Linked DNA regions of Homo sapiens. The protein of the gene in region 1 purifies or fractionates together with the protein of each later gene. This does not show direct contact. Each region holds a gene or a part of one and is shown on either strand. Other genes may lie near its edges.

What was found. Proteins that work in one complex are often made in the same cells at the same time.
Region 2: the proteins of IPCEF1 (region 1) and TRIM11 purify together in Homo sapiens (affinity purification with mass spectrometry; 2 studies listed by BioGRID and IntAct, with this or other methods). This does not show direct contact.

The regions. Positions count from the first base shown.
Region 1 is NC_000006.12:154,346,285-154,351,542, reverse strand, and holds part of IPCEF1 (interactor protein for cytohesin exchange factors 1), read left to right. Parts: intron 1-5,258. UniProt on the Homo sapiens protein: Enhances the promotion of guanine-nucleotide exchange by PSCD2 on ARF6 in a concentration-dependent manner.
Region 2 is NC_000001.11:228,399,783-228,405,040, reverse strand, and holds part of TRIM11 (E3 ubiquitin-protein ligase TRIM11), read left to right. Parts: intron 1-2,879; coding exon 2,880-2,975; intron 2,976-3,846; coding exon 3,847-4,077; intron 4,078-5,258.

The sequences.
Region 1 (5,258 bases):
CTCTACTTTAAAATCGCCCAAGTGAAATTCTTTTCTATTCCTTAGTGAAGAGATAGTGGAAAGGAGTTGTTCTTTTTTCCAGGAAACTGCCTGTGCCTTGACATGATTGCACATCCGTGATTGTCTTCTTAGGCAGTCAGGTGGTACCACGTAGGAAATGCTTCCAGCCAGCAGGGAACAAAAGGGGACTGGGGGGACCTCAGAACCATTCCTGGGTAGTTCACAACCACAGTCAAGATATGTGACTGTTCCGTCACCACAAAGATCCCTCATGCTGCTCTTTCATAACAATACCCAATCTAATTTTAAAATATTCAATTTCCATTTTGAGTATCATTGGACCCATATTGATGGGGCCTTCTATTAGGCTCAATTTTTTAGCGGGAACACCGCAGATCAAAAGGCTAGGAGACTTGAGTGTCCTGCCTGTAGTATATGATAGTTTTGCGCTACAAGCAAGCATTTAACTTCTCCACGCTTGAGTTGTCTCATCTATAAAAGCTGAGATAAAAATACCAAACCAGGCCAGGTGGGGTGGTTGATGCCTGTAATCCTAGCACTTTGGGAAGCGGAGTTGGGAGGATCGCTTGATGCCAGGAGTTGAAGACCCACTGGGCAATAAAGCAAGATCCCATCTCTACAAAAACAAAAAAATGTGGCCAGGTGTGGTGATGTGTGCCTGTAATCCCAGCTACTCAGGAGGCTGAGGCAGAAGGATCTCTTGAGCATAGGAGTTTGAAGCTGCAGTGAGCTATGATTGTGCCACTGGTGTACAGCCTGGGCAGCAGAGTAAGACTCTGTCTCTGAAAAAATAAAAAAACTAACCAATTGCGTTGATGTATGGGCCAAATGAAAGTAAGCGTATATACTTAGAAGAAAACAAAAATATTATAAACCAATGGAGCCCTTCTTGGAAGCTAATACAGGAGGTAAAGAATGAAAGTAATTTTATGTGCTAGTAATAAGCCCATCTGTATTGCTGGCAAGCACTTCTAGGGGCCAAATTGGACGTGACTCATTTCTATGAAGTTAACTTGTGGCATTGGGCCTCAAACAGTAGAGTCACTTCATCATTGAATGGGAGTGAATAAAGACACTCTCAACAATGAGACACATTTACAAAATGAAAATCAGGCTATTGTGAAATCTATAAAAGATTTTCTTTCATAAATGGAGTCTAGATAGTGATCCCAGATTATCATGACAATTTGGTTACTTGTTAGATATGGAACATCAGCGTCTATTTGGGGGGGATATTTATTTACCTCAGTTTGTATTGAAATAAAAGTTCAAATATTCTGAAAATGATGCAATGTGATGGAACTTTGATCCAAATATAAAATCTAAGGCTGCAATTTAAGTGTACAGCAAGTGGAAACTTCTCAATAAATGGATGTTAGATCATTTTAGTGGTTCATCTGTAATCGTTGATCACTTTGATCCATAAATTTAGGCTGGTACCTGCATAAGTACTTTAATGACAGCATAAATAGCCAGGATTTCAAGCATATTCTTGAGTTTCCCTGTGACATAAGAATCTCTTAAATCCCCTTTTCAGCAGAATTTGAATTACCCTAATTCCTATTACATGATTATCCCCAGCAGAACAACATTCTTTTAACAGGTAAATATCATTATAGGAAGCTAATACATTTAATCTATGTAAAACTAAAAATATCTTTTTTCTCCTCCTCTTAATTGATCCATATTTAATTTTCTTTAGACTTGTTAATTTTATATAATCTTTTTCTAACTATGCAGTAGAAATCTGTGACTGGATAGATTTTTTCAAATTTGGACAGGGTAGAAGTTCTTTTTTTCCTGACTATTGTGAAGGAAACTGCATTCTTCAGAGTTTTATGCACTGATCTGTAACGCCAGAGAGGAATAGAACATTTAACTACTTATAGGCAAATGTACATATATTAATAGAGACTGAACCTTAGTCTAAAACAGGAAAATAGGCCAGGCACAGTGGCTCATGCCTATAATCCCAGCACTTTGGGAGTCTGAGGTGTGAGGATCACTTGAAATCAGGAATTTGACCCAGCACTTTGGGAGGCTGAGGTGGAAAGATCACTTGAGCTCAGGAGTTTGAGAACAGCCCAAGCAACGTATAGCAAGACCTCGTCTGTACTAAAATAAATAAATAAATAAAATAAAATAAAATAAAATAAAATAAAATTAGTTAAGTGTGGTAGAGCATGCCTGTAGTCTCAGCTACTCAGGAGATGGAGGCAGGAGGATCACTTGAGCCTGGGAGATTGAGGTTGCAGTAGGCAATGATCGCACCACTGCATTCATTCCAGGGTGACTGAGAGTGACCCTGTCTCAATAATAATAATAATAATAATAATAAGATAAAATAATACAAACCTCTGAGAAAGGAAAAAAGATGAAACCAACTCAAAACATTTCCCAGGAACCTTAATTTAACATTATTCACTCCTAAAGAATATAATTCTTTGTAAAGTGTCACAGTTTATCCAGAGATAAGCTGTACTTTATACAAAGTTATGTTTGAAGGAGAAAACCTTTAATTATTTGAAAAACTAAGCAAACGGCTGTAAACATGAAAACCATGCATTTTAGGCTACTTGTTTATGATTATTCTGTTTGAATAGCTCAGACTACAGCACACTATTGGATAAATCTGTAATAGTTTTATGGACTGATGAGAATATATATAATCTCATCCATTTCTTGAACATGTTTGAAGATTCTACTATTCTAATAGATTAAATGGTTGTTGCAGGAACGTTGCTGTTTATTCGCTGGGAGTGCAAGTCATTTGTAACAACTTTGTTCTTTCCACCGATTAAAAGCCTGAAGCAAATGATATTAAAGACCTTATTTTCTGGTTCCTTGTTAAGGCACAAATCCCAACCTCTTTTTCCATCCTGACAAAAAATAGTCAAGCAGTTGTTCTTACTAGTGGTTGTGAATGCTGACCATATAATATGATAAGGACCCACTTACGAATATTCAACCTTCACCAAATACTTATTGAGTACCTAATATTTTCCACGTAATGTGCCAGGTATTTCACTGCAATTAAATGGACAAGATCACCTTTGAAATTCCCCTGGAATCGTGTGAATTAGTATTGCCTCTTGGTTAGACTCAGTTATAGCCAGTCTATCAAAGAGAAGTGCCTGAACTTGAACTCTCTTGGTCAAATACACTCACAGTTTTCCAGCTAGAGCTGGATTTTACTCTGGAACACAGCTACCAGAGTTTTCCACACTTGGATTTTCAACTTGATTAATCAACTAGAGCAGCTTTTGCGTAGGTAATGGGGACTTGAGGGAGGGACTGTGGAGCAAGGTTTGAGCCAGGCACTCGAGTACTATTCAGTTTTATTTTGTGAACACTCACAAACATTCCAAAGTTATGTACAAATTAGTTGCCTTGAGAGGAACGCTGGAGTCCCAGATATTCTGAGCTGAGAAGCCAGCACGGGGAGAGAGACACCGAGTCACCAAAACACAGTAAGTGGGCTGAGCAATGAAGGCTCAGCGACTCCTGATTGCCTTGAAGTGACTTTGCTTTCAAGTTGGCATTAGCTGTAGTCACAGGGTCCTAGACATGGGGTGTAGTAATTTCCACCGGGCATTGCATCCTCTTTGTGTTCTGTGCATTGGGAGCAAGTTAGCAAGCGATCCCTCTGTCAATCTCAATGGACTTCAGGCATTGAGCACCAAACCACTGTCCACTCCCCACGAGCTCACGTTTCCTATCATTGTGGAGGTGGCCTTTTGCCAATGGATGGATGCTCCTGGCCTATGAAATATTCTAGGCAATGCCTGGAACTTTCTGGGCAGTAGGAGCCACTGAGGTGAGCCTTAGAGCAAGGCAGAAAATAGAGTCCAAGAGGACCCCTTCTTTCTATAGGCTGGTGAAAAAGTAGTCTTTAATGGCAAAACCTGCAACTACTTTTGCACCAACCTGATAATTGCAGCTTTTCCAACAGGCCATGCAGGGCTTCCCCAGCCCCACTGGCTGTGTGGCACATGGAGGTAACATGTACTGTCCTCTTGCTGTCTGCAAGGGACGGTGTTAAAGGCTTTACATTCATTATCTAATTTTTTAATCAAATAGCTCTAGGAAGTGCTGTTATTATTAACTAGTTCCCTTTCTCTGATGAGAAAACACAGGTTCAGGGAACTTCAAACCTGGCTCAAGGTCACCCAGAAATAGTACAGTCAGGGTTCCAACCCCAGCAGTTTGACTCTGGGGTCAGAATTTGAGCCTAGGCTTATTTGACCTGAGCGTCCAGTATATAGCTGTCCTGAGGGAATATACTATAATATAAGGAAAAGGATGCTACATAATTTCTTATTTTTGGATAAGGTTGCTTTGTGCTTGTCCACCTTTCCATTCCTGGAGCTGAGAATGTGTATAATCCAACCCCAGAGAGGCCAGAGGAAGCCTGTTTGGGTGAATAATGATTTTAGGAGTGCTCAGCCCAGATTTGCCTGAGCCTTGAGGAAAATCTCATTCCCAAAGACACTTCCAGATCAAAGCTGAGGAGAATTGGGGTTGAGGGTGATGGAGCATTTGTTTCTAATAATATAGATTGAAAAGGGGAAGAAAACAGAGATTAAAAAATAGGAAGGCAGAGTTTTGAGAGGATATGCTTGGATAGGGATAGAGTCTGGCCACCCAAATCTTACGTTGAACTGTAATCCAAATTGTAATCCCCACGTGTTGGGGGAGGAAACTTGTGGGAGGTGATTAGACCATGGGGGCTGTTCCTCATGTTGTTCTCATGATAGTGAGTGAGTTCTCACAAGATCTGATGGTTTTATAAGAGGCTTTACCTTGCTTTGCTCTGCACTTCTCTCTCATGCTGCCATGTGAAGAAGGACATGTTTGCTTCCCGTTCCACCATGACTGTAAGTTTCTTGAGGCCTCCCTGGCCATGCAGAGAACTGTGAGTCAATTAAACCTCTTTCCTTTATAAATTACCGAGTCTCAGGTATTTCTTCATAGCAGCATAAGAATGGACTAATACAGATAGTCCATCCATTCTTTCTAATTATTATACAACCAGAAAAAGTTCTTGAATGAAAGAAAAGATTAGTATATGCCAATTTAGAAAAAAGGAGGGAAGAAATAATCTCTTTAGGCAAACACTTTGAATTCAACCTCATAGTAAAATGTGTTATCAACTTTCTTGATATCTAGAGCTTAAATTTTTTAAAATAATTATTTTTCCTTAGTACATATAGAATGCATTTTATTGCCAATGATAC
Region 2 (5,258 bases), on another chromosome or scaffold:
CGATATAGTTTCATGGGATAGCACTTAACCCTTTCTTTTGCAGGTGAAGAAAAAAATTTCCCTCTACCCTGTTAGGTTCAGTGGCTCAGGGCTGCAAATTAAACTGGCACAAGACAAATTAACAGGAAAAAAAATCATACAATTTGATTAATATTTTAAGTTTCACATGCACAAGAACTTCATAGAAAAGCGTATTTCAGCAAAGGTTTGTGAATTGTGGAGAAGTGACTGGACACAGAAATGGGATTGGGCGTCTAGGACTGATAAATTGTGGGAAAGTGACTAGGAAATAGATGGGAAGAATTAACACAAGATAATGGTCATTGTAGTAAGGTCTGTTTAGGCAGAATCATCTCCCAGGATTAGAGTGCCCTCCTCTTCCTGGTAGAGAGAGGGTGCCTTTCTCATGGGGAATGAATACCCTACTTTTAGGCAGATAGGAGTACAGAGAGCTCTTCCTGCATCTGCTTTTACTCAGAATAATTCTTGTACCACAGCGGTATATTTGGGGATGACATCCTGTTCTTCACTGCCTTAGAGCCTAGGTTATGTTAACCACAGCAAACTGCTTTTACCTGCCCCCATGGGCCTAGAAAGCTCAGTCCCACCTATGGGGCTGTGTGTCCACTTGCCAGAGCTGGGGCCCATTAGCTCCATGACAGGTTCACTCCTTGCCTGGCCCTGACCTGGGGTCATGACAGCTGAACAAGCCCCAGGCTGGGTTGCCCCGAGGTGGTAAACAGGGAAGTCCCAGTAAGCTCCAGTTCCAGGAAGCAGCACCATGGGAGAGAGAAGATGGCCCCCAGATCTCTCTGGGTTGTGTGTCAGATGGCACTTGTGTGGGGAGGGGGTTTGCCACAGGAAGGAGGAGGCCAGGGAAGATCCCAGGCCTGCACCAAGCCCCAGCATCCCAGTTCTGACTACACGCAGGGTAAGAGGTTTCTGTTCTGATCTGGCCAGAGACACAAAGATGCAGGTACCTGAAATGCAAGATCTTTGCCATGCTGGGTATGTTGTGCTGCTTTACAGCCCATTCCATCTGATCAAATGCTGTTTGTAACCTTAGTGTTGAAAACTGAAAACGTTGGCCAGGTGTGGTGGCTCACGCCTGTAATCCCAGCAATTTGGGAGGCCGAGGTGGGCGGATCACCTGAGGTCAGGAGTTTGAGACCACCCTGGCCAACATGGTGAAATCCCATCTGTACAAAAAATACAAAAATTAGCTGGGTGTGGTGATGGGCACCTGTAATCCCAGCTACTCAGGGGGCTGAGGCAGAAGAATCACTTGAACACAGGAGGCAGAGGTTGCAGTGAGCCGAGATCGTGCCACTGCACTCCAGCTTGGGGGACAAAGCGAGACTCCGTCTCAAAAAAAGAAAACTGAAAATGTCCCGTAGGGACTGAGGCATTGAGGGAGAAGTGAGAGGCACTGGGCCAAGTGTTTGAGGTGGGGTTGGGGTCACAGGGGCCAGGCCTGAGTTTTCTGGAACAGGTCGGCAGCAGTGAGGAGAGAGGCCTGGGGACAGGGACCGCCATTTGGGGTTCTTGTAGCTCACGTGAGAGCTGAGCCTAGGCAGAGACAGTAAAGCAGTTGGACATGTCCTTGGTGCTCCAGCGGTCTTCCCGAATCGTGAGGCCAAGTGGTGAACTAAAGTGAGCACCTGGAGCCAGGCAGCTGGGCTGAAGTCCTGGCTCTGCTACCGGGGCAGACTTCTGGACCCTCCCAGCACCTCCATCCTTCCAGAGCGTGGATAGCGAGAGATGAGAGCCAAGACTTGGGGTGGCTGAGAAGCAAAGAGGTGTGGCCAGCACAGGGCCCGTTGCTGATAAGGGTGTCAGATGGGGTGGAAGTGAGCAGACCCTTCGAGAAGTGGGTTCAGGGCACCCCAAGCACACACAGTACAGTGAGCTTGTGTACAGGATTTTCACTGCTTCCTGGTATGCACAGCATGAGGAACCGTGGGAATGAGAATTAAGGACCAAGAAAGCAGAATGGAGGTGTACCCATCCTGGAGCTTATTACAGTGATAGCTGATGAAGCTGAAAATGCACAAGGTCCCGAGTGGCTTGGAGAAAAGATAGGGTGGGTAGCCAGGCATGTCTGTCCGTGCTGACTGTCCTACCAAAACACCATGGTTTGCACATGGCAGATGTATACAAGCTGGAGACTCACAGCTCTGGAGGCTGGAAGTCTAAGATCAAGCCCTGGCAGGTTTGGTGTCTGGTGAGGGTGCTTCCTGGTTCACAGACAACACCCTCTCACTGTGTTGTCATATGGTGAAAGGGGCGAGGGTTCCTTTATAACACTAATCCCATTGTGGCGGCACTGCCCTCCTGACCTAGTCACCTCCCAAAGCCCCCGCCTCCTAACATCATCACACTGGGTGTTGGGATTTCAACCTATGAATTTGTGGGGGCATAGGGCAGAATTTTTGGACCCCAGCATAGGCTTGGTCCAAGGCCCTTATGTGAGCCAGCAGGTGAGAAGGAAGAGGAGGAGGAGTAGACACTGGCTTGGGAACAGGAGAGCTCAGCACCTTCAGAGCCAGCTTGGGGACAGATGGGGTGGGCAGCCAGAACCCTTGAGGTAGCTTTGCAAAGGGGGGTGAGGCCTGGGCTAGGGTAGCAAGGTCGAGGACTAGAAATGCCCCATATGAGAAAAAGGAAAGAATGTGGCTGGGGCTGTCAGCCTCTGGCAAGAGGCTGCCCACCTACCATGAGGGCTCACGCTTATTGGAGGGCATTGAGTTCCCTGATTCACCAGGCAGATTTCAGTTTGTCCCCATTGTCTTTGAGGAGGGGACAGGGTGTCAGGTGCAAAAGGGCAGGCTTCTGTGACAGGACTCATGTCTCATGGTCCTGCCTGGCCTCTCCCGCAGGCGAAGCTGGAGAAGTCACTGGAGCATCTCCGGAAGCAGATGCAGGATGCGTTGCTGTTCCAAGCCCAGGCGGATGAGACCTGCGTCTTGTGGCAGGCAGGTGCTGGGGCTCCCAGGGTCCTGGGTGGCAGGGTAGGGGGTGAAGGTCCTGTATAGGAGACCCCAGGGGGCGATGCTGGCCAGGCACACTTGCCCTTGGCGCCCCAGGACCAGTCACTGCTTCAGCCTGGCCCCACCGAGCCCACTGAAGGGCTGGTCCTTTCCCACGTGCACCTGTCCTGCCAGGTCGTGGGCGTGGGCTCCCATACTGCAAGGGCCCCATCCTGGGGTCCCAGCATGCTTGGGTGGCAACTCTCAGGTGTATTTAGGGTCTGGGCCCTGGAGGTAAATTTGGAGGTTTTGAGGGACTAGGTCATAGATGTGGGATTCAGCCATCCTGAGGAGTAGATTTGGGATCTGTCCAGTTCTGGGGTAGATTTGGGGTCTGGGAGGCTCTGGGTGGTGGATTTGGGATCTGGGAAGCCCCAGGGGAGAATTTGGAGGTCAGGAGGGACCCTGGGTGGTAGATTTGTAGTCCAGCTGGCCCCAGGTGGTAGATGCAGGGTTCTACCAAGCCAATGGGTGGATTTGGAAGTTGGGGAGGGACTAGATAGTGGATTTGGGATCTAGTCGGCCCTGGGTTTAGATTTGGGGTCTAGCCAGTCCTGTGTGGTAGAATGGGATTTGGCTCTCCCTGAGTGGTGGATTTGGGGTTTGGGAGGTGCCACAGGTGGGTTTGGGGTCTGGCCAGCACCAGGTGGTGGGTTTGGGGTCCTGCCACACCTGGTGCTGTGCTTTGGCTTTAGCAGGCCCCGGGGGTGGGGTTGGGTGCAGCCAGGCCTCTGGGTGGGCTTGGGGTCTGACCAAACTTGGGGTCTGGCTGGGCCTGGGGTCTGGCCTCAGCTGTCCTTCTCCCTGGGCTCCACAGAAGATGGTGGAGAGCCAGCGGCAGAACGTGCTGGGTGAGTTCGAGCGTCTTCGCCGTTTGCTGGCAGAGGAGGAGCAGCAGCTGCTGCAGAGGCTGGAGGAGGAGGAGCTGGAGGTGCTGCCCCGGCTGCGGGAGGGCGCAGCCCACCTAGGCCAGCAGAGCGCCCACCTAGCTGAGCTCATCGCCGAGCTCGAGGGCCGCTGCCAGCTGCCTGCTCTGGGGCTGCTGCAGGTGAGCTGGGCGGGGAGCAGCCATGGTGGCCACACGGGCATGGCCTGGCCACACTGGGGGAGGGAGAACCAGAAAGTGCAAGAAGCAGGGGCAGAGAGGTTGTCTGGGCTGAGAGGTGAATGGCATGGCTGGATGTGCCTGGCTGTTGCCTGTGAAATGCTGAGTCAGCAGCAGGACAGATGTCCCACCCCCAAAACCCACGTGCCGAGAAAGGGAAAATCAATTTTCCTCTGTAGATGTAAACAGTTGATGTTTCTTAAGTGATTACATAAGGTCACTCCATCTCGTCCTGACTGACACTGCTGCTCCCTGTGGGCACAGCAGAGTGGGCATGTGCTCGCTGGGACCACCTTGGGCCTCCCATAGGATTCCTGCCATGGTGTCCCCAGCAGGAAGTCCTCGCCCTTCACTCTGTCTTCACCCCGCTGGCACACCCCATGCATCTCCATTATGGGGGGCAGTCTCCTCCTCCTCTGCTTCCAGGAGAGTCTTTTCCCATGTGTGGGCTCCACTCCCTGAGCCGGCCCCCTGGGCCTGGGCTTTCCTTGGTGCACCCCCAAACCAGAACCAGTGGACGCCCTGGCCTGTGGCCTGGCGGCAGGTCAGGGGGCCTGGAGTCAGCTCTCTCCGCTTGGCAAGCGTGCACTGATGAGGACTGACGGCACTCCCATGCTGAGAGGCCCCGTGTGGGCTGGGAGTGTCTGCTATCATCTTCCCGTGGGGTTCAGCTGGATGTTTTTCCCACAAAATGGAGAACGTGTTCCATGCCCAGCATGGTGTAGACTCAAGGGGCCCCAAGATTCAGAGGGAAATGGGCCCCTGGGCAATTCTGGCTCCCACAGAGGAGAGAGGCCGTGTGTGAGTGAATTCAGCCACTGGTGGGGCAGGGCTGCCAGACCCAGGTGGAGCCCACAATGCTGCAGATGTGGCTGGGCGGCTTTGCACAGGGGGTGACCTGCTGCCGGCCTCTGGAGCCCAGCAGAACATCAGTCCAGGCACCGGCTCCTGGTTTCGATTGTCATTTCTATTGTAAGCTTTTTTCTGTTTTTTTGTTTTTTGTTTTTTTTTTTTTGTTTTTTTTTTTGTAGATTTAAGGGGTACAAGTGCAGTCAGAGTGTAGCCATCACCCGAATGGTGCACACTGTACCCAGTAGGTAGTTTCCCCCACCTCCAAGTCTGCA